Linked DNA regions of Homo sapiens: regions 2, 3, 4 and 5 are each linked to region 1. Evidence: fine-mapped expression QTL. A gene starts in region 1. Each other region holds a variant in brackets. All regions are shown on one strand. Distances are from middle to middle. Region 1 holds the start of INPP5D (inositol polyphosphate-5-phosphatase D). Region 2 overlaps INPP5D (inositol polyphosphate-5-phosphatase D). Region 3 overlaps INPP5D (inositol polyphosphate-5-phosphatase D). Region 4 overlaps INPP5D (inositol polyphosphate-5-phosphatase D). Region 5 overlaps INPP5D (inositol polyphosphate-5-phosphatase D).

What was found. PIP is the estimated chance that this variant, and not a neighbour inherited with it, causes the effect.
Region 2: its variant is fine-mapped to the expression of INPP5D in whole blood (TOPMed, PIP above 0.99). The same link has a PIP of 0.9 or more in blood mononuclear cells.
Region 3: its variant is fine-mapped to the expression of INPP5D in whole blood (TOPMed, PIP above 0.99).
Region 4: its variant is fine-mapped to the expression of INPP5D in blood mononuclear cells (TOPMed, PIP above 0.99). The same link has a PIP of 0.9 or more in skeletal muscle.
Region 5: its variant is fine-mapped to the expression of INPP5D in whole blood (TOPMed, PIP above 0.99).

What each region holds. Positions count from the first base shown.
Region 1 is chr2:233,058,307-233,062,321 of GRCh38, reverse strand. INPP5D (inositol polyphosphate-5-phosphatase D) reads right to left here and starts at 1,980. Exons shown (of 27, transcript NM_001017915.3): 1 at 1,710-1,980. The coding sequence starts at 1,843. RefSeq lists enhancers at 1-249, 1,336-1,425, 2,026-2,305 and a silencer at 1,746-1,825.
Region 2 is chr2:233,167,780-233,171,794 of GRCh38, reverse strand. INPP5D (inositol polyphosphate-5-phosphatase D) reads right to left here. Exons shown (of 27, transcript NM_001017915.3): 14 at 2,394-2,490; 15 at 1,631-1,769; 16 at 1,191-1,299; 17 at 643-731. Among named protein-coding and RNA genes, the nearest start is that of ATG16L1, 82 kb to the left of the region's middle. The variant T/G (reference allele first, on the strand shown) is at 2,226.
Region 3 is chr2:233,083,672-233,087,686 of GRCh38, reverse strand. All of the region lies in intron 2 of INPP5D (inositol polyphosphate-5-phosphatase D), which reads right to left. Among named protein-coding and RNA genes, the nearest start is that of INPP5D, 25 kb to the right of the region's middle. RefSeq lists an enhancer at 2,814-2,863 and a silencer at 2,854-3,148. The variant C/T (reference allele first, on the strand shown) is at 1,665.
Region 4 is chr2:233,174,108-233,178,122 of GRCh38, reverse strand. It overlaps INPP5D (inositol polyphosphate-5-phosphatase D), which reads right to left. Exons shown (of 27, transcript NM_001017915.3): 18 at 777-858. Among named protein-coding and RNA genes, the nearest start is that of ATG16L1, 76 kb to the left of the region's middle. The variant G/A (reference allele first, on the strand shown) is at 1,833.
Region 5 is chr2:233,160,225-233,164,239 of GRCh38, reverse strand. It overlaps INPP5D (inositol polyphosphate-5-phosphatase D), which reads right to left. Exons shown (of 27, transcript NM_001017915.3): 11 at 2,414-2,516; 12 at 337-533. Among named protein-coding and RNA genes, the nearest start is that of ATG16L1, 89 kb to the left of the region's middle. RefSeq lists an enhancer at 1-581. The variant T/A (reference allele first, on the strand shown) is at 2,299.

The sequences.
Region 1 (4,015 bases):
GTCAGAGAGACCCACGCCCCATGTCTGTAACCTGAGCAACCACAAAGCAAGCCCTGGTCAAAGGGCTGTGTTGAAGGTTAATGAGATGGGGCCCTGGAAGCCCTCGGCTCAGCCAACACCAAACAGCCAGGACAAGATCCCACTGGGCCAGGAGAGAAATCCAAGTAACCCACATGGGCCAGGTGGAGTCAGACTGGGCTTGTGAGAGGCCTAAGAGAATCTTCCTGCTCCTTCTAAGGCCCCGGCAGCAGCAGGTCCCCACTGGGGAAGTCCAGGCAGCCTGGGCCTGCGTTCCTTCCCCTGAGGCATGAGAGAGGGGACACAGGAAACCAGTCTTTGGAGGTGGGGCTGCAGACTGTCAGCACAGGCCAGCGACCAGCTGCGAGCCTGGCTTGGTTTCCAGTGCCCCAGCTGACCCTGTAAACACTGTGGCTCCCCTTGCTTCTTTCTCCAGCCCTGCAAGGCTACATGCCTGCCCCGCTGGACTGGGAGCAGGAGAGGTTGGGCCACAGGCTGCTGGTCTCAGCTGCAGCCTCTGGGGGCAGATGGCCGTGGCTTTGACTGTTGTCACTCACTTAACCTGCCAGGGCCTCAGATTTCTCATCTGCAAAGTGGGGCTTTTAACAGGACCTTCACTTTAGGTTGTGGTGAGGATGAAATGGGCTAACAAATGCTTAGCACGACAGGTCCCAGCTGTGAGTCAGTATTCAAAACAGGTCTGGGTTCATCACCCAATTCCCCTCCTGCCTGGAGAAGCACAAGGCCCTGGCTGCTCGGGGGAACATTTCTGCCAGCCCAGGGATGCTACTTGAGATGTTCAGGTGGACACACATTTCCCTGACTACACTCCGGCACTGCCTGAGGCCCCGGCAAAATGATTAGACCAAGAGCTGCAGGGCAAGGCCCCCCTATGATTAGACCGAGAGCTGCAGGGCAAGGGCCTCCTTCAGACGCTGGACAGGAAGGGGGTTTTAGAAAGGAACCTTCAGCAAGTGGCTGGTTCCTCCATTGTTAGCACAGCTGGTACATTCAGTAACATCCCCAACCGGGCAGTGGGAGGAGTTGATGGTGACAGAGACCCAAATTGAGGGGGTGGGGGGTGGGCAGCGGTCACAGCCAAGTGCTCAGGAGAGAGAAGAGGCTGCTCGCTGGTGGTAATGGTGACTTCCTCTGCTCTCAGGCCCCTGAAAGCAGCTTCTGACTGAATGGAAAGTCCTTTCTTGATTAAACTCACCCCATATTCTTGGCTCGCCAAACAACAGCTTCCTCCAGGGGCCCGAAGCCTGGGTGCTCCAGGAAGGGTCCCCCTTGCCACCTTTGCTCTTCTCAGGGTTTCTGAGCTGGGCATCTTTGAGCTGATCTCTAACACACCCACCTCCACAGAGCCCTGAGCTTCCTCCTGGCTCCAAAAGCCCAAACTCCCTTCTCTCGGTCCCCAGACTCCAAGGAAGCCACAAGGTCCATACAGCTCATGGGAAGCTGGGGTGTAACATCAGGCCTCAGAGTGGTTCTGACAGCTCCAAGGCTGCAAAACCTGCCATGAGACCAGCTCTCTGAACTCCAAGGACAAGGTCCATGACAGGGTGGCGGGGAAGTGTGCATGTCAGATCACTCTGTCCTGTGACATAAGAACAACCCATCTCAAAGCTGGGCCCCCTCTAAGCCCCTCTGTCATATCTGTGCCCGGGGAGGGAGCAGGTTGTACTCACAGCACGCAGAGCGCGTATGCCCGGGAGATGGACTCGCTGGCACGCACGAGGAAGCTCCCGTCCTTGCCTGTCCTGGAAAGCAGCTCCTCCGCCTTGGAGCGGGTGATGTTGCCATGGTTCCAGCAGGGGACCATGGTGGGCGTGGGCCTCCTCGGCCGGGCCGGCAGGCACCCCCAGGACCCACACACCACCGAGGGGAGCGGAGGCCCCTCCACTGCAACCTGCCGCCCGTTGCCTCTTGGTGGCCTCGGCTGCTGCCACCAGCTTAACTGACTGACTTCCTGTTTCAGGCGCTCAGTGAGGGAAAGGAAACTGAGCTGCGGAGAACTTCCTCATTACAGAAACCAAGCAAGAGAGAGAGAGAGAAAGAGAGAGAGGGGGGGGCCCTGGCCGTCCACCGTCCCCTACACCCTGCCACGGCTGCCGCGGCTCTCTTGCCAGCCCTCTCCTTCCTGGCAACTGGTCGCAGCGTACAATTGAAGTGTCCAGTGGCAGCTGAAGTCCCCCTGGGTGGAATGACCGGCTCTGGAGACGTCAGGAGAGTTGTGGCCACTTCTGAAGAAGCATGGCCTAGCAGGCATGGGTGGGCCAGAGAAGTGGTTCTTCTGCGGCCGTGCTGACACCCACGTGGGATGCCATGCCCTAGACAGGCCCCCGAGCCTTCTGCTCTCCCTCAGGGCTTTTCAGCACCCACCCTGAACCTCCAAAACACCCAAGGGGGCACAGCTTCTCAACTGGGACTACGGCCTGCCCAGGACAGAGCAAACTTGAGGGGGAGGGGACAGTCGAGCCCCACCCCTCCCCTTTAGAGACTCCCAGCGGCCTGGGTGCTGGGAGACCTTGGCTGCCACCAGCCGAGGGCGCCAAGGTCCAAGTGATGGCTCTGTGACCCCATTACCCTCATTCCCAGGGGCGGGTGGGTGCTGCACGGGCAGCACAGCTCTGATCCCTGCAGTCCAGCTTGGAGACACACAAAGGGAGCTTGGAGGGGATGTGGGCCGTTTACAGCGGGAACATAGGCTGGGTTTTTCCCTGGGCTTCTCCAGGATGCTGGGGAAACAAGCTCGGAGAGGAGAACCCCAAAGCCCCACAGGGCAGGCTGGCCGCCTGGCCAAGGACAACACTGGGTGCTGAGTCCTGCGTCTCAGCAGTCGGGGTGGCCGGTCGGACTGCACCGCCTCCAAGACTGGGCATGGCCACATATGCCCACCACTCAAAGAGGAGCTGCCTCTCCAGGGACCGCCATCCAGGACCAGTCATTTCTGAGGGCTCTGCGGTGGACACCCATCCCTCAGCCCCCAGACCTGGGCACCTTCCGTCCTTGGGTCCGGCCCACCAAGGCCGAAGGGGCACGTGTTGACCCGCTGCACAAAGAGTGCCCCCACCATCCCACATCCAGGCCTTGGCCTCCAGGACATGACAACAGACTCCCTCCAGGAAGGGGCACCAGCCAGGCAGCGCCACCACATTCAAGCTGTGGGAACCTGGTCAAGTTTCTTCTCTCTCTCGGCCTTGGTTTCTTCTTGTCTAACTTGAAGGACGTAGCTCGTAAAAGAGCTCACATGTGCCCAGGGGCTCAACATGTGTCACACTGATGGTTGTCCCAGAACAGGGCCCCCAGCACCTCCCCGCTGAGCAACACACATGGCAGGCGAGTCTGTAGGGCAGACAAAGCACTCCCAGTCAAGGACCTCTGGCCAGGCTGGGAGCCAGGCGTGGGGATAGAGTGGTGATGGGAACTGGCCTCCATGCTCCGGCCCTTCCGCAGCACGCCACCTCTGCAGCAGCCCAGTGTGGAGGCCTCTCATTCCCCACCCACGCCTCCACTCAGCACCTGTCCACCCCCTCCTTATGGGGTCATCTCCTATGCTCCCATTGTGTACCTTCACACCCTTCTCACTTCCCTGCTGGCCTCCACCAACATCCATGAAGTCCTGGACCACGCCACCAGGAGGATCCATTTGCAATACTGGTCCCTTTACACCTCCACCCACTCATCTCTAGAGACCCCTACCATGCCAAGACTGCCCTACTTAGAGAGCTTCCCCCAAACCCCCAGCCCCCCACCTCTCACACCTCTATTCCCACGGTCCTTGCCATTCCACAGAGTGAGATCCCCTGGCACACACGCCACACGGGCACTCTTCCCTCATTTTTAAGGCCCATCCCAACTTTGCTTCCTTTTCCACCCAATTGCCTGATCTATCCAGCATGGTCAGCTGGCTTGTCCCCCACCCTTCTGCCCTCCACATTCAGGAAATCCCAGTATCTAGATCAGAGCTGCCCTTTTGGTGGGTGGATTTTTT
Region 2 (4,015 bases), 110 kb before region 1:
GCTAGTTGCATATCTGTTTTTCCTACTGTGAAGTCCCTGGAAAAGACATCTTTGCTCTCCCATCACCTAGGAGAGTGCCTAACCCATAATAGGCCATCAGGAAATATCTTTGAACAAATGAATACATATTTTATTGCATCTTTCCCCAAAACACTGTTCCTTGGAAAACAAGTGGCCTCATAAGACATTAATTGGTGTTCCATGAATAACTGAGTTTGGCATACAGATTTCCTCATGGAGAACCACAGTGCTCTTGGGCCCATAAAAGCTCTGATAAGTCCTGCAGCGAAGAAACCTGCTTAATGTTAATTCACTCAGCAGTTTAGTAAATATATTTGATCACGGGACTTTAAAAAAATGATCTTCAGAACCCAGTTAAGGAAATAATACTTTAAAGTCCTCTCAGCATCTTAGAGTATCTGGACAGAAGGTAAATCACAAGGGTTATTTTCCCAGCTCAAAGCAGTGCACAAGTGTGGCTTCCCATTTACTCTGTAACACAAATCAACATGTGCTTTCTAATTTTTTTCTTTCCTTTTTTTTTTGCCTAATGGATGAAGACACTTTCTGTTCACCTTTTGGGAACAGACACCAGCGGGGAGGAGATGGAGGGCAGGGAAGGTGTCTATGAAGAGGACTCACCCCTGTCGCTTTCTGCTTGGTGTAGGCGTATTTGTCCCGAGTCAGTCTCTCAAAACGGTAGGTTGGGGCAAACGTGATTTCTTCCTCCTCTGAAACAGAGAGACTTTCGTTTTAATTCTGATTCCCCAGGTTTTGCATCTGGCCAATTTTCCCTATTCTTCTGGTAGGAAATCAGGGGAAAGGGGACGAAAGGATGGCTGGAAAGGCTCCAAGAGGAGAGGCTGCTGCTTTTTTTTTTTTTTTTTTTGAGACGGAGTCTGTCTTTGTTGGCCAGGCTGGAGTGCAGTGGCGCGATCTTGGCTCACTGCAAGCTCTGCCTCCCTGGTTCACACCATCCTCCTGCCTCAGCCTCCCAAGTAGCTGGGACTACAGGCACCCGCCACCACACCCGGCTAATTTTTTGTATTTTTTTAAGTAGAGACGGGGTTTCACTGTGTTAGCCAGGATGGTCTCCATCTCCTGATCTCGTGATCCGCCCGCCTCGGCCTCCTAAAGTGCTGGGATTACAGGTGTGAGCCACCGCTCCCAGCCGGGGTTGCTGCTCTTACCGAAGTGTAGGAAGACCTTCTGCTCCCTCCTCTCTGTGAGCAGCTGGTCGTGGGACAGGAGGTCTGCGTACTGCTGCTGCTTGATTTTCTGGATGATGGTTTCTGCCTCCTGGAACAAGAACATGCCCGGGCCTCTGGTGAGAAGCCCTGCTGATCCAGGCCTGACAAGCTTCGGGGCTGGGGGCGGGCAGCTGGATGACCCGGGCTGCAGAGTGATGGTGGCAGGGTGGCTGTGACAGTTATGGGAACCGGGTGTGAGCACAGGGGAACCGTGAGGAGCGGCTGAGGCTCAGTAATGGAAACAGCGTTGAGCCCCCAAGGGGAGCAGCCGCCTCAGCCCACTTGATTCACATGTCTCCACGACCACCTGCCCCAAGCTGACTCAAGGGAGCCTCCATCTCATACAGCCCCAGCCCCAGCCCCAGGCGGGCAGCCCTTACCCAGGTAGGCAGATCCACACGGTAGTTAAGATCCCCAAACCAGAAGAGGTGCGTGAAGCGGTGAGTGATGTTAAAGGGACTCAGCTTCTTGTCGCCCAGGGCCAGGAACCGGAGAATGTTCATATAGTTTTGGTTTCGCCTAATGCAAGGAAAAAGCGGCCATCTAGCACGGGGTCACTGGTTCCCCCTCCACTGTGGCAGGAAGTCACTCCTGCCATAGGTGTGGGGCGAGGAGCATAGCAGGTGGGGGGAAGTGAGACTTAGCCCTCCAGCCCTGCTGCAGCAGAACTCCTTAGTGTGCAAATATGGCACAGCCAGGATGCAAAGGGCATTTGAGGCCACATTGGGTGTACAGAGGGCAGGGGACCAGGAGCAGCAGCATCTGCTCAGCAGAGAATCAGAACAGTGAAGATTCTAGATGGCTGTCTTCATTCCTGGGCCCCAGCTAGGCAAGATCAGCTTGGATTTGTAAGGAGGCCCCAGAGGAGGCTTTCTGCTTTAGAAACAGTGCTAGTTAGCGGTCCATCAGGCTAATGACACAAGGAAATATCTTTTCTGACCTTCAGACAAAATTCCTCCACACGTGAGGTCACTA[T/G]GGTGCTGCAGTTGCCTTTGATGAGACTGTGGTGGGCCCTGAAAGGCCACAGGACATCCACAAGGTCAAAGGCAGGAGCTGAGCAGGTCCTTCTGGTGCTTAAAGGTGTGAGGCGTGTCTGGGCAGACAGCCCAAATGCACACTCTTGGGGGGAAGGAGTTCCATTACCTGAGTTTCTTTTCACTTCCTGAAGTCAAGTGGCTGTTGACGAACCCTAAGGAGGTTCCATTGAACATGAACGACACCCCCACGGCTCCCTTGTTCCCTAAAAAGAAGAGCAGAAAGAAGAATCAAAATATCAAACAGACACACTTGCCAAGGGGCCAGAAATCACCCGAAGGCAGGGTGAGAGGGGCAGTGAGTGAGGAGCTGGCAAGGGATGGGCGAAACAGGGTCGTGCAGGGTGGGAGCCGCTGGGCAGAGAGCGGGAGATGAGAAAATGCAGGAGCAGTGCAGATGGCGGCAGCCTCAGCCTTCTCGGCGGGGCAGAGGAAGGTGGCTGCTGCGATCCTCCCCCGGCATCTCTCTCTAAAGTGACCAGGGTGCTAAGCGGGCAGCCAGAAGCCCTGGGAAGATTCAGAAGGTTCCAGCCTGGGTGGGCTGATCTCCCTCCCAGTGAACTCAAGTTTCCTGGGGAGACCAAAAACCCACACTGAGATCATACCTTTTTCTGCCAACGTTCTGATCTATTCTAGGTCAGTGGTTCCCAAAGGGAGTTCCCTGGACCAGCAGCTGCACATCACCTGGGAACTTCATGGAAGGGCAGATTCTCAGCCCCACCCCAGACCTACTGAATCTGAAATCCTGGGATGGGGCCCAGTAATCTGTGTTTGACAAGCCCTCCAGTGTCAGGGGTGGGCAAATGCTGGCTCACTGCCAGCTACAAATGGTTTTACATTTGTAAATGGTTGGAAACAAATCAAAAGAAAAACCATCTTTTGTCATTCATGAAAATACGAAATTCAAATTTCAGTGTTCGTAAAGAACACGTTACTGGAACACAGCCATGCCTATTGACTTCTGGATTGTCTGTAGCTGCTTTCAGACTACGATGGCAGAGCTGAAGCATTGTGACAGTTGTGTGGCCCAAAGAGCCTAGAATATTCACCATCTGGCCTTCTATGGAAAACGCTTGTTAACCCCTGCTCTAGGTGATTCTGACACATGCAGGTGAGAACCTGCTCTGTCCAATACAGGCACAGGCCACATGTGACTATCAAACACCTGAAATGTGGCTGGTACAAAATGAGACAGGTTGTGAGTGTAAAATACACATTGGAATTGTGGCCTTGGTAAGAAACACAGACTGTAAAATATCTAATAACCTTTTACATTAAATATCTATTGAAATAATTGTATTTTGGATGTATGAAATTCAATAAAATCTATTATTGAAATTAATTTCACTTGTTTTCTTTTTAATGTGGCTACTAGAAAATTTGATCTATTGATTGTAATAAATCAAATTGTAATCTATTTTGATCATAAATCTATTTATTTATGATCTATTTGGCTCCCATCATTTTCTTTTCTTCCTTTCTTTCTTTTTTTTTTTTTTTTTTTTGGAGACAGAGTCTCACTCTGTCTCCCAGGCTGGAGTGCAGTGGCGCGATCTCTGCTTACTGCAACCTCCGTCTCCCAGGTTCAAGCAATTCTCCTGTCTCTGCCTCAGGAGTAGCTGGGACTACAGGCACCCACCACCACACCCAGCTAATTTTTTGTATTTTAGTAGAGACGAGGTTTCACCGTGTTGCCCAGGTTGGTCTCAAACTACTGAGCTCTGGCAATCT
Region 3 (4,015 bases), 25 kb before region 1:
AATAGTTCTAGTATAGATGATAAATAAGTCAATATAAAAATGTATATTTTCAAATACCTCAGGGCTGGGCATGGTGGCTCACACCTGTAATCCCAGCACTTTGGGAGGCTGAGGCGGGCAGATCACAAGGTCAAGAGGTCGAGACCATCCTGGGCAACATGGTGAAACCCTGTCTCTACTAAAAACACAAAAATTAGCTGGGTGTGGTGGCATGTGCCTGTAGTCCCAGCTACTCGGGAGGCTGAGGCAGGAGAATCACTTCAACCCGGGAGGCAGGGGTTGCAGTGAGCTGAGCCGAGATTGTGCCACTGCACTCCAGCCTGGTGACAGAGTGAGACTCCGTCTCAAAAAAATAAATAAATAAATAAATATAATATAAAATCAGGTAGTCACAAGTGCCACAAAGAAAAGAAAGGAGGGTAAGGGGTTAAAGAGCAACAGGTGAAGGGTGGGGTGACTATTTTTCTGGGGTGATCAAGTGAGGCCTCTCAGAAAGACTTTCTTCTATTTGGCAAACCCGAAGTGGCCTCTTGCAAATCTGACAGACACAATTAGACCCGGAAGCTGATCTCGAAGGGCAAAGTCAAGATGAGAAGCGAAACCATCCTGCAATAAGCAAGAAATCATGCCTCCCCAGTGCACAGACATTGTTAAAATACTGATTGATTTTTGTGCTTTTTCTGGTCAGGGTTAGAGAAAGAGATGTTGAGCCCAAGGATGTCTGACAGGAACATAAGTCATTAGGAATGTCTGGGACAGGGCTGGAGCAGGTCCCAGAAACACGACACAGGCTAAGGAGAAGGAAGACCCAGAGACTGTGTTGTCAGACCGTGGCTCATGGGCATTTGGTGCAGTGAAACTCGATATTCAATTTGAAATTTTCACTTTTCTGCTTTGAAATTCCCCTGGGATAGTTTAAACCTTTGTAAGTTAGGACACTTTTAGCTGTTAGAAAACCCTAACTCAACTAACTTGAGCAAAAAGAAATTAATTAACTCACAAAACAGAAAATCTAGAGGAGGGCAGATCCCAGGTTGCTTCATTCTGTTCAGCAAATTCAAGGGCATCATCCAGGACCCAGGTTCACTTCTCCTTTCCGTGTGTTGGCCTCACTCGCCAGCTACCTCTCCTCATGGTTACAAGGCAGCAGCAGAGACCCAGCTATCACATCCTATGGCAGCTTCCAAAGGTAGGAAAGAGGCTATCTTGGCTGGGTGCGGTGGCTCACACCTGTAATCCCAGCACTTTGGGAGGCCAAGGCGAGCAGATTACCTGAGGTCAGGAGTTCGAGACCAGCCTGACCAACATAGTGAAGTCCCATCTCTTCTAAAAATACAAAAATTAGCCCGGCATGGTGGCAGGTGCCTGTAATCCCAGCTACTTGGGAGGCTGAGGCAGGAGAATCACTTGAACCCAGGAGGCGGAGGTTGTGGTGAGCCGAGATCATGCCATTGCCCTCCACCCTGGGCAACAAGAGCGAAACTCTGTCTCAAAAAGGAAAGAAAGAAAGAAAGAAAGAAAGAAAGAAAGAAAGAAAGAAAGAAAGAAAGAAAGAAAGAAAGAAAGAGGCTATCTTATCCCTATGTCTGTTTTTAAGACAAACAGACCTTTACTAGAAGCCCACAAAGCCCTTCTCTTCACATCTCATTGGTTACACTTGCATC[C/T]CATTCCCCAGTCTAAACTTATCGGCTACATGGTGCATGTTGATGTTAGTTCTAGACCGCTTTGGGTAACAAAGACAGGAAACAGGCCCATGATCTGGGGCAAGGTGAACCAGAAGGCTCTGGAACATGGAGAAACAAGGACAAAATGGCTAGTGGGGATGGGGAGAAAATAAAGACAGTCATTTGGAGGTAGAGATGACAAATGGCATGGATACTCTTTCCAGAATTCTCTGACAGACTGGGGAAGGGATTAGGGATCTTGCAGCCACACAAGAGGGAGGGGCTGCTCAGTCACAAAGGCATGTGTACCCCAGGGGGCTAGAAAACGGGGGGAGGCTTGGCTTTCTCAGGGGATTAGAAGAAAGATGCCAGAAGAGCTGGAATAAAAACTTACTCAAAGACCTAACAGAAGAAAGGTCTTTTGTGTCAAAGAACAGAGTTTGCAAAGTGAACAAGCCGAACACATTGCAGGTACTATCAATGAAAGGAAAATGACAACACTGGAAAAGAATTCCCACCGGCTTCAAAGTAGAAAAAAAGAAAAAAATGGGTCGCCTCTATAGGAACCAGCACAAGTTTGGCCTTGGATTTTGTACTCGGAACTATTCATAACGCTACATTCTTTTTTTTTTTTTTCTTTGAGACAGTCTTGCTCTGTCACCCAGCTGGAGTGCAGTGGTGAGACCTCAGCTCGCTGCAGCCTCTGCCTCTCAGGTTCAAGCGATCCTCCCACCTCAGCCTCCGGAGTAGCTGTGACTACGGGCATGCACCACCACACCCGACTAAGTTTTGCATTTTTAGTAGAGACGGGGTTTCACCATGTTGCCCAGGCTAGTCCCAAACTCCTGACCTCAGGTGATCCACCTGCCTCAGCCTCCCAAAGTGCTGGGATTACAGGAGTGAGCCACTGCACCCAGCCTGTAACACTACATTCTTGAAGGTAGTGCTGTACCTTTTACAGGATTTTGAGCGAACAGTTGGTTCCAAGAATTTTATATCTATCAAATTACTCTTGAATGTGTAGACAACTAAAGATGTTTTGAGATATTCAGAGGCTTGGAAAATAGATCTGTCCATATTCTGCAGTAGACAGAAAAACCAATTCAAAATGCAGGCTTCTAGAAGGTGAGTGTCAGAGCATAAAGGAACCCCTCCACCAGCACGGACCCCCTTGGGGCCCATTGTCCTTGGCATGGCTGTGGAGCCCACACAGGGCAGCCCTGGCCGTGCTAGGCTTCTATGCCCTGAACCTTTTCTGTGCCCCTTGTTGTGCAACTTCAGGAAGTGTGTTAGAGCCACATCCTTTGCCCGGCGGCTCAGACGGAATCTTTACTTCACTCAGTGACCACTCAGAACAATAACAGCTGCCACTCGCTTCCTGAGCTTAATAACAATGGCTCAACCGTTCACCTCCCGGATGCTTGTGACGGAACAGCTTTTAGAAAGTTGTTTTGTTTTCCCTCTCCAAAAGCCATGTCGCCCGGAGATACGTGACAGCCACCGTCAGGGACCAGGGACTTGAGTCACAAGTGTCTCTTCTTTAGAACTCACCGGAATGGCTCAGACCACTGGATTTTTTCTTCCAAATCGGGAAAGAATAATGAAAGGGTCTATGAGATAGATATTTTCTAACTCTTCATCTAAACTTGCATGAAAACCTGGGAGTGTGGCTGGGCATGGTGGCTCACGCCTGTAATCCCAACACTTTGGGAGGCTGAGGCGGGTGGATCACTTGAGCCCAGGCGTTTGAGACCAGCCTGGGCAACATAGTGAAACCCTATCTCTACAGAAAAATACAAAATTTAGCTGGGCATAGTGGTGCACACCTGTAATCTCAGCTACTCAGGAGACTGAGGTGGGAGAATTGCTTGAGCCTGGGAGCAGAGGTTGCAGTGAGCCGAGGTCGCGCCACTGCACTCCAGCCTGGTCTACAGAACAAGACCCTGTCTCAAAAACAAAACAAAACAAAACAGAAAAACACCTGGGGGTGCTCCCATCTTGACTGAAACAATCAATATCCTAGATACAATCTCAACCTCAAGAAAAGACAGGAAGTTCACAGAGAACATTGATGTGATAGGGGATTATGGGTAGTTCTAATTTTCTGCTTTATTCCTCTCGGTGGGAAGGATGTTAGAAAGGACGCAAGGGCCAAAAGGTTGTAGGGTGGAGCCGAAGGGCCTCTTTTGCTTCAACTGTGGCCCTAGGTTTGAGACAGCCATTTATGCGACACGTCTGAGGCCACTCCAGGCCTCCCTGGCCACCCTGGAGCTGGCCCATGAGGGCGGCTTGCAGGACCTCAGACTCTTCCTTACTTTCCCAAAGAGGGGCCATTTCAAAGGCAGCAGCAG
Region 4 (4,015 bases), 120 kb before region 1:
ACTTATTCCATAATTATTTATTTTAATATTACATGTTATGCCTTCTAAAAATCAATTTAACTCAATTTATGGTTAAACCTCCCCAAATATATATGTGTATATATGTGTACACACTTGCGACATGTATTAGTTTGAGCCATATGAATTTCCAATAACTATTTCTGACCTACAAAAACACTTTCATATGGTTCACACTTAATATGTTCTTTTCAAAAGAAATAAAACTGAATTTTTAAAAAAGTGCTCCGGGTCGGCCGCGGTGGCTCATGCCTGTAATCTCAGCACTTTGGGAGGCCGAGGTGGGCTGACCACCTGAGGTCAGGAGTTTGCAACCAGCCTGGCCAACATGGTGAAACCCCGTCTCTACTAAAAATACAAAAATTAGCCAGGCATGGTGGCAGGAGCCTGTAATCCCAGCTGCTTGGGGAGGCTGTGGCACGAGAATCGCTTGAACCCAGGAGGTAGAAGTTGTGGTGAGATGAGATCATGCCATTGTACTCCAGCCTGGGTGACAGAGTGAGACTCCGTCTCAAAAAGAAAAAGAAAAAAAGTGCTCTATAATTCAAATGTCTCCTAAAGCAGGGGATATGGATTAGGTGGCAGCACAAGACAGGCAGGGAAGCATCAACATTTCCAGGTCGCCTGATTAGGGTTACAGTGAATTCCTCCCTTTGACACATCAACAGACTGAAGCCCTTAGATTTTAGGGCAGTCACACCTCCCAGCTTGGTGCCATTCTCTGATCCTGTTCTGCTTTCCCCAGTGTTTGAACTCACCATAAGACTGACACACCACGTGCACCAGGGGATAAGACTTCCAGAGGACTCGGTCACACCAGGAAGGCAAGTTGTACTTCATCTGCAAATCAAAGTCATAGGCTTTAAAAAATGCCTCTTATTATTATTTTTTTAATCAGTAAAAGAACAGATTAACTGGTGGCCTCTGTAATCCTCAAATTCATCGGCTGTTGGCTTTTTATAGAATTTCCCTGTAGGTGGCTTTAAACTTTTTTCACATGGCTCAAGTCCAGACTCCACTGCCACGCCTTCTTCTTTAGACTAAGATAACTCACCTTGCTGTATTCCCTCACATATCCTCCTGACTACTTCAGTATCCCTTGTATCTTCACCTTCTCTTACTTTCTTTCTGACTCAGATGAACCCCCACCTGTATTTTCAGCTCAGTCTCTGCTCACTTTCTGCAGTCACTTACTTTAATAACACACTTCAGCTTCCACCCCCAGTTCTATTCATCCATCTGTCCACCTTTTCATCTCCCCATCTACCCATCTTTACTCATTCACCCATCCATCCATCCACCTACCCACCTATTCATTCATCCATCCACCCATCCACTTATCTACCTATTCATTCATCTATCCATCCACCCATCCATCCAACTACCTGTCCATTTCATCCATCCACCCATCCACCTATTCATCCACTCATCCATCCACCCACCCACCCATCCATCCACCCACCGACTAGCCATCCATCCATCCACCCATCCACCTATCATCATTTATCATCCTCCACCAACCCACACATCATCAATCCATTATCATCCTCACACCACACATCATCATCATCATCATCATCATCCACACTACCACCATATGGCTATCATCCATTCACCCATTCACCCACCTATCCACCCATCCATCCACCTATCCACCCATCCATCCATCCATCCATTCACCCACCCACACATCCATCTATCTATCCATCCATCCATCCACCCACCCACCCACCTATCCATTCGCCTATCCATCCATCCATCCATCCATCCATCCATCCATCCATCCATCGCACCCATCCACTCATCCATTGACC[G/A]TTCACACACCCGTCTACCTACTTATCCAATCACTCAAACAGTATCTATTAATACTATATGACAAGCCCTCTCCAGGGCCTCAGGCTGCAATGATGAGCAAGATGTCCATTAGGTGGGATAGACAAGGTAAACTGGCAATAACAACCCTCTTTTATCAATATCCTTATCCCCTCATGTTCTAGCTCTTTCTTCTCTGTCTACAAACATAAAGGAACTCATCCTGAAAGAGCTTATCTCTGTCATCTCCTTCAATTACTTTTCTCTTTTCTTCCTTTTACCAATTTTCTTTCAAGAATGTTCTATTTTCAGGCTGGGCATGGTGGCTCATGCCTGTAATCCCAGCACTTTGGGAGGCCAAGGCGGGTGGATCACCTGAGGTCGGGAGTTCGAGACCACCCTGACCAACATGGCGAAACCCCATCTCTGCTAAAAATACAAAATTACCCGGGCATGGTGGCGCATGCCTGTAATCCCAGCTACTCAGGAGGCTGAGGCAGGAGAATCGCTTGAACCCAGAAGGTGGAGGTTGTGGTGTGCTGAGATTGCGCCACTGCACTCCAGCCTGGGCAATAAGAGCAAAACTCCATCTCAAAAAAAAAAAAACAAAAGTTTTTATTTTCATTCTCTCTACTTCTGAACCATTCACTTTTTAAAAAAAACTTTAGGTACAACTTACATAAAGTGTACTAACCATAAGTGTACAGTCCCATGCATTTTTAGGTTTGTATAAACCCACTTACCCACTACCCAGAGCAAGATACAGAAAACCGCCATCATCCTAAAGCTTCCCTCATAAGCCTTCCTTGTCAATACCAGAGCCTCCTAAAGGTGAGCATTAGTGTGACTAACATCTCCATTGATTAATTTATATGAACGTATATAAATGGACTCACTCAGTAGATACTCTTTTATGTTGGACTCCTTCAGCCACTTCGTTGCTTATAAAAGTTCCATTGTTTATAAGTATCACATTTATCTACTCTACTGTTAATGGACATAGGGTTGTTTTCAGTTTTGAAGATTACAAACAAGGCTGCCATAAACATTCATTTTTTTTTTTTTTTTTTTTTTTGAGATGGAGTCTCGCCCTGTTGCTGAGGTTGGAGTGCAGTGGCATGGTCTCGGCTCACCACCATCTCCACCTCCCAGGTTCCAGTGATTCTCCTGCCTCAGCCTCCCGAGTAGCTGGGATTACAGGCGCCCATCAGCATGCCCGGCTAATTTTGTATAGAGACGGGTTTCGCGGTGTTGGCCAGACTGGTCTGGAACTCCTGACTTCAGGTGATTCACCTGCTTTGGCCTCCCAAAGCTCTGGGATTATAGGCGTGAGCCACCATGCCCGGCTAAACATTCTTATACCTATTTTTGGTGAACAAATATACAAATTTCTCTTGAACACACACCAAAGCGGAATTACTGAATCATAGAATAGGTGCATTTTTAGTTTTCATTGATTCTGCCTAACAGTTAGTTAAGTCCTTTTTTTTTTTTTTTTTTTGAGACAGGGTCTCACTCTGTTGCCCAGGCTGGAGTGCAGTGGGGCAATCTCAGCTCACTGCAACCTCTGTCTGCCGGATTCAAACAATTCTCCTGACTCAGCCTTCTGAGTAGCTGGGATCACAGGAGTGCGCCACCACACCTGGCTAATTTTTGTATTTTCAGTAGAGATGGGGTTTCGCCATGTTGGCCAGGCTGGTCTCAAACTCCTGGCCTCAAATGATTTACCTGCCTCAGCTCCCAAAGTGTTGGGAATACAGGCATGAGCCACTGTGCCCAGCCTAAACAGTTACTTCTTAACATTGCAGTTCTCGGCATCAGCTGCCTCTGAGAATTACCCGTGGGGCTCCACAAATAGTCATGTACCACAGTAATGGACTGCATATAGGACAGAGGTCCTACAAAATTATAATGGAGCTGGAAAATCCCCATCACGTAGTGCTGCTGTAGCTGTCATCACGTCACAGCGCAACACATTACTCACATGCTTCTGGGGATGCTGGTGCAAACCAGCCCACTGCACTGCCAGCTGTGTAAAAGCATAACAGTACAATTCTGTTCAGTACATAATATTTGATAATGATAAACAACTGTCACTCATTTCCGTGTTTACGATATTATTTATCATTAGAGTGTATTCCTACTTATAAGAAAATGTTAACTATAAAATAGCCTCAGGCAGGTC
Region 5 (4,015 bases), 100 kb before region 1:
CACCCAGCCCCAGCCGCAGCCCCTGGGTATGGGGTATCCTGTCTGTAATCCCAACCCTTCGGGGGACTCCCAGCGATGCTTGATAGGCGAGACAAAACATCCTAAAGATGAGAACCGGGGCTGACCAAGGGTGGGAAGATAGAGGACTCAGTGGTTTTCAGCAATACCCCACAGATCCCATTTATTTCTGAATACAGACGCATCTCTCAGTGGGGGCCTCCAGACATCCTTGAAAACTGAGAGCTGATAGGCTGAGCCCACCCTTGCCTCTGAGACAGCCCAGCCGAGCAAAGATTCTATCCCGGAAGCCCACCCAGCGTGCAGCCAGCTGCTCACTGTTTTAAAAGTCACACTGGTGATTTCTTGCAGGGAGTGTTTGAGGATCTCCAGCCACTCCTTCTCACTCAGGGGGTCCTCTTGGGTGCCGATCACGTAAATGTCATGGGGGATGTAGTCCGCAGAGTCGTCCCGCGTCTTTCCCTGCCCCTTGGAGAGAAACCAGGACGTGATCTTCTTGGGAGGGGGGGCGTTACCTTCAACAGCAAAACCCAACACCAAGTGAGTCAAAGGCACATCGAGTCAAAGCATTAGGAGAATTCAAAACAGAGGGCGGGAGTGTGAGGGAGGTCACGTCATTACACAAGACCATCCAGGCAGCCCAAAGAAATGCCTGCAATGGAGGCCTGGGCGCCAACCTCACCCAGGATGTCGGTTAGGGCTAGAGCTCAGTTAAGCCTCTTTTTAAACGTAATGTCAAGTTTCAAGGTATAGAAACACCAGAAGATTCCCTGATGTCAGACACTGTCCTGCACTTTGAGGCTACGATAATTGAGACACAGTCCTGTCCCTCAAGGAACTCACATCCTATTCTCAAGACAGCCAAGGGAACTGACAAGTTTTAGATGGCGGGTTCTAACCCATTGTTGGGAGACAACAAAGTCTCCCTTGCAAGACAGATCCCAGCCCAGAGCGGAGGGATGCCTGGGTGTGAGCCAGAGAAACGGGAGAGTGTGGAAACTCCTCCGCATTCCCATTTCAAAACTGAGTTGAAGAAGCTCAATCAAGAAATTTTGAACGGTTCTCCCTACAATGCCCTTGAAGGATGAGCAAACTTTGTTCCTCAAAGAGATGAGCTTCTTGCCTTACAAGTGCAAAGAAGCCAAGCATTGGAGTAAATGGACTGTGGCTAAATTCTGCTCCCCCAAGAGGCTCAAAGTGGGTGCCCGAACCCCCGGGCTGGTGGGTCCCCGGCCCTCCTGCGGCATGGCCTCAGCTGGCTCCTTCCATACTCTTCTGTGGGAAGGGCACCCCTGCCCTTGTGTCATGGACATCCCTGACCATGTCCAGAGGGAGGAGATCAGGCAGACTATTGTCTCTTATTAGAAACACTGAAAGGGACCGAAGGGGACAAGTGACCCCCTGGGGCACTGGCCCGGGCTCTACTCCACGGCTGCTGTGGCCCTGGGACACGAGTGACAAGCTGTCACTTCACTTCCAGGAGGCCCCTGCCAGCCACTGCTCACCCTCTTCCTCCCAGACTCCTCTCAGGACAAGGGTAGGGGACACACGACACCCAGTGAAATTCCAATTTCAGATAAACTGGTAGTTTTTAGAATAAGTTTATCTGGATGTCTTCTATCTAATTTATTTCTACCTGAACACTTACACTAAAAAATTATTTAGTATTATTTATATTTAGTAGAGTGCATGTGTTTAGTAAATACACAATATATATGTTTAATACAAAATATATTTAGCATATATTTAGTATATTATTAGCTGTATGCTTAAACTAATATTACTTAGTATAATTCATATTTAATATAATAATTACACTTATTTAGCATATGTATATATACTATATATTCAGCATAATGTCTATGAGCATATATATTTAGTATTTATTTGTTTGTAGCTAAACATATACTAAAAAAAATTGTTTCTATGAAGTTAAAATTTAACTGGGCATCCTTTGTCTACGTACCTATCTCTCTGTCTCTCTCTGTCTCTCTCCTGATAAATCTGGCAACCCTACTCAGGGTGGACTTCTTTCTCTCAGGCCTGGGGCCCCTTGGTGAGCTGCCTAGGGCTGGCAGGGTTCCCATGAGCCCCTTCACCTAGATATTCAGACTCTTTCCCTAAAACTTTCCAATTTAGACATACAGAGTAACCCACGCCAGCTGCTCTTGGGGTACGATAGTCCCAAAGCTCGTTTTTCTTACCCATCATCTCAGGAAAAGGGTGGAATTCCTCAGGAAGGAGGTTGTGCGGGTGGGCTGGGGCTTAGGGGCAGGGCCC[T/A]GGGGCAGGAAGGAAGGGGACATGGATGTCGTCACTCCACCCCACCTTGAGGATGCCTGAGTCAGGAAAGCAGAAGCAGAGGGGGTGACTGCAGGGAGGGGGCGCGCGGACCCACCCATGTTCCAGGTGCCGATGAAGATGGTGATCATGTCGGGCTCCGGCTGCTCTGAGTGCTTGTTCTTCATCTGCTGCAGGAGCTGGCAGAAGCCTTCTCTCTTCTAGGGATGGAAGGGCAGACAGACTTAGAAAGGCCTCTGCCTCCCTGCACATTACACTTTGCAAAGGACTTGGTCAGCTTCAAGAAAACTGAGAGGAGCGTAAATCAGTGTGAACTTCCAGGACAGCAACCTGGAAACATGTGTCCAAAGTCATAAGCGAGTGGCTTCTGGCCTAGACACTCCCCTGCAAAGGTGCGACTTTAACAAAGTGATCAGGAGCTGCGCAGAAGTCCAACCCTGTCACGGCTCTGCAGCACAGGCCTCAGCACAGAAAAAAATCAGAAGCAACCTTACTGTCCAGCCTTAGGAGATTCATTAATAATGTATCAGAGGGCCAGGTGTGGTGGCTCATGCCTGTAATCCCAGCACTTTGGGAGGCCGAGGTGGGTGGATCACCTGAGGTCAGGAGTTCGAGACCAGCCTGACCAACATGGTGAAACTCCTGTCTCTACTAAAAATACAAAATTAGCCAAGCGTGGTGGTGCTTGCCTGTAATGCCAGCTACTCGGGAGGCTGAGGCAGAAGAATTGCTTGAACCCAGGAGGTGGAGGTTGCAGTGAGCCAGGATCGCATCATTGCACTCCAGCCTGGGTAACAGAGCTAGAGTCTGTCTCAAAAAAAAAAAGTATTCTAGACCATCCATAAACTAGAATATCACAGTGTTTAACAAGTGTGATCCAGAACTATCTTGCCAACAAGGACAGGTGGCCACAATATATATTTTTAAGCATGAAAAGCTAGTTGACAAATGATATGAATAGCATCATTGCATTTTTAATAAAACATTTGGGCCTGGCACAGTGGCTCATGCCTGTAATCCCAGGACTTTGGGAGGCTGAGGCAGAAGGATTGTTTGATCCCAGGAGTTTGAGACCAGCCTGGGCAACATAGGGGAACCCTGCCTCTACAAAAAATAAAAAAATTAGCCAGGCATGGTGGTGCATGCCTGTAGTCCCTCCCAACTTAGGAGGTTGAGGTGGGAGGATTACTTGAGGCCAGAAAGTTGAGGTTGCAGTGAGCCATGATCTTGCCACTGCACTTCAGCCGGGGCAACTGAACAAGACCCTGTCTCAGAAAAGAAAAGAAACAGAAAAAGAAAGAAAGAAGGGAAGGAAGAAAGAAAGAGAAAATTAAAAAACATCTGGAAGGGGCATAGTCCCAGATTAACTCATGGTATACGAGTGTTTTTATTTTAAACATTTGCTTGTTTGTGTTTGCCACGTCTTCACCAAGGAGAATAGATTACTTATGTAATGAAAGAACATTTAAATTAAAGAAACTAATTAAAAAGAAGAGAGGACATGAAGGCTTTCATAGCCTACTCAATATTTTTCACGTATTTTTCTGGGGTACCCAGTGGGGCACCAAGCAGCCTCAGTTGGCCCTCTCTTAGGATGCAATCAATAGAGCAGGCGGACTTTAACAAAGTACACAAATTTCAGGGTGTAACATATGACATGACCAGTGTTTGACTGTTTCAACCTGCAAAGACAGAAATT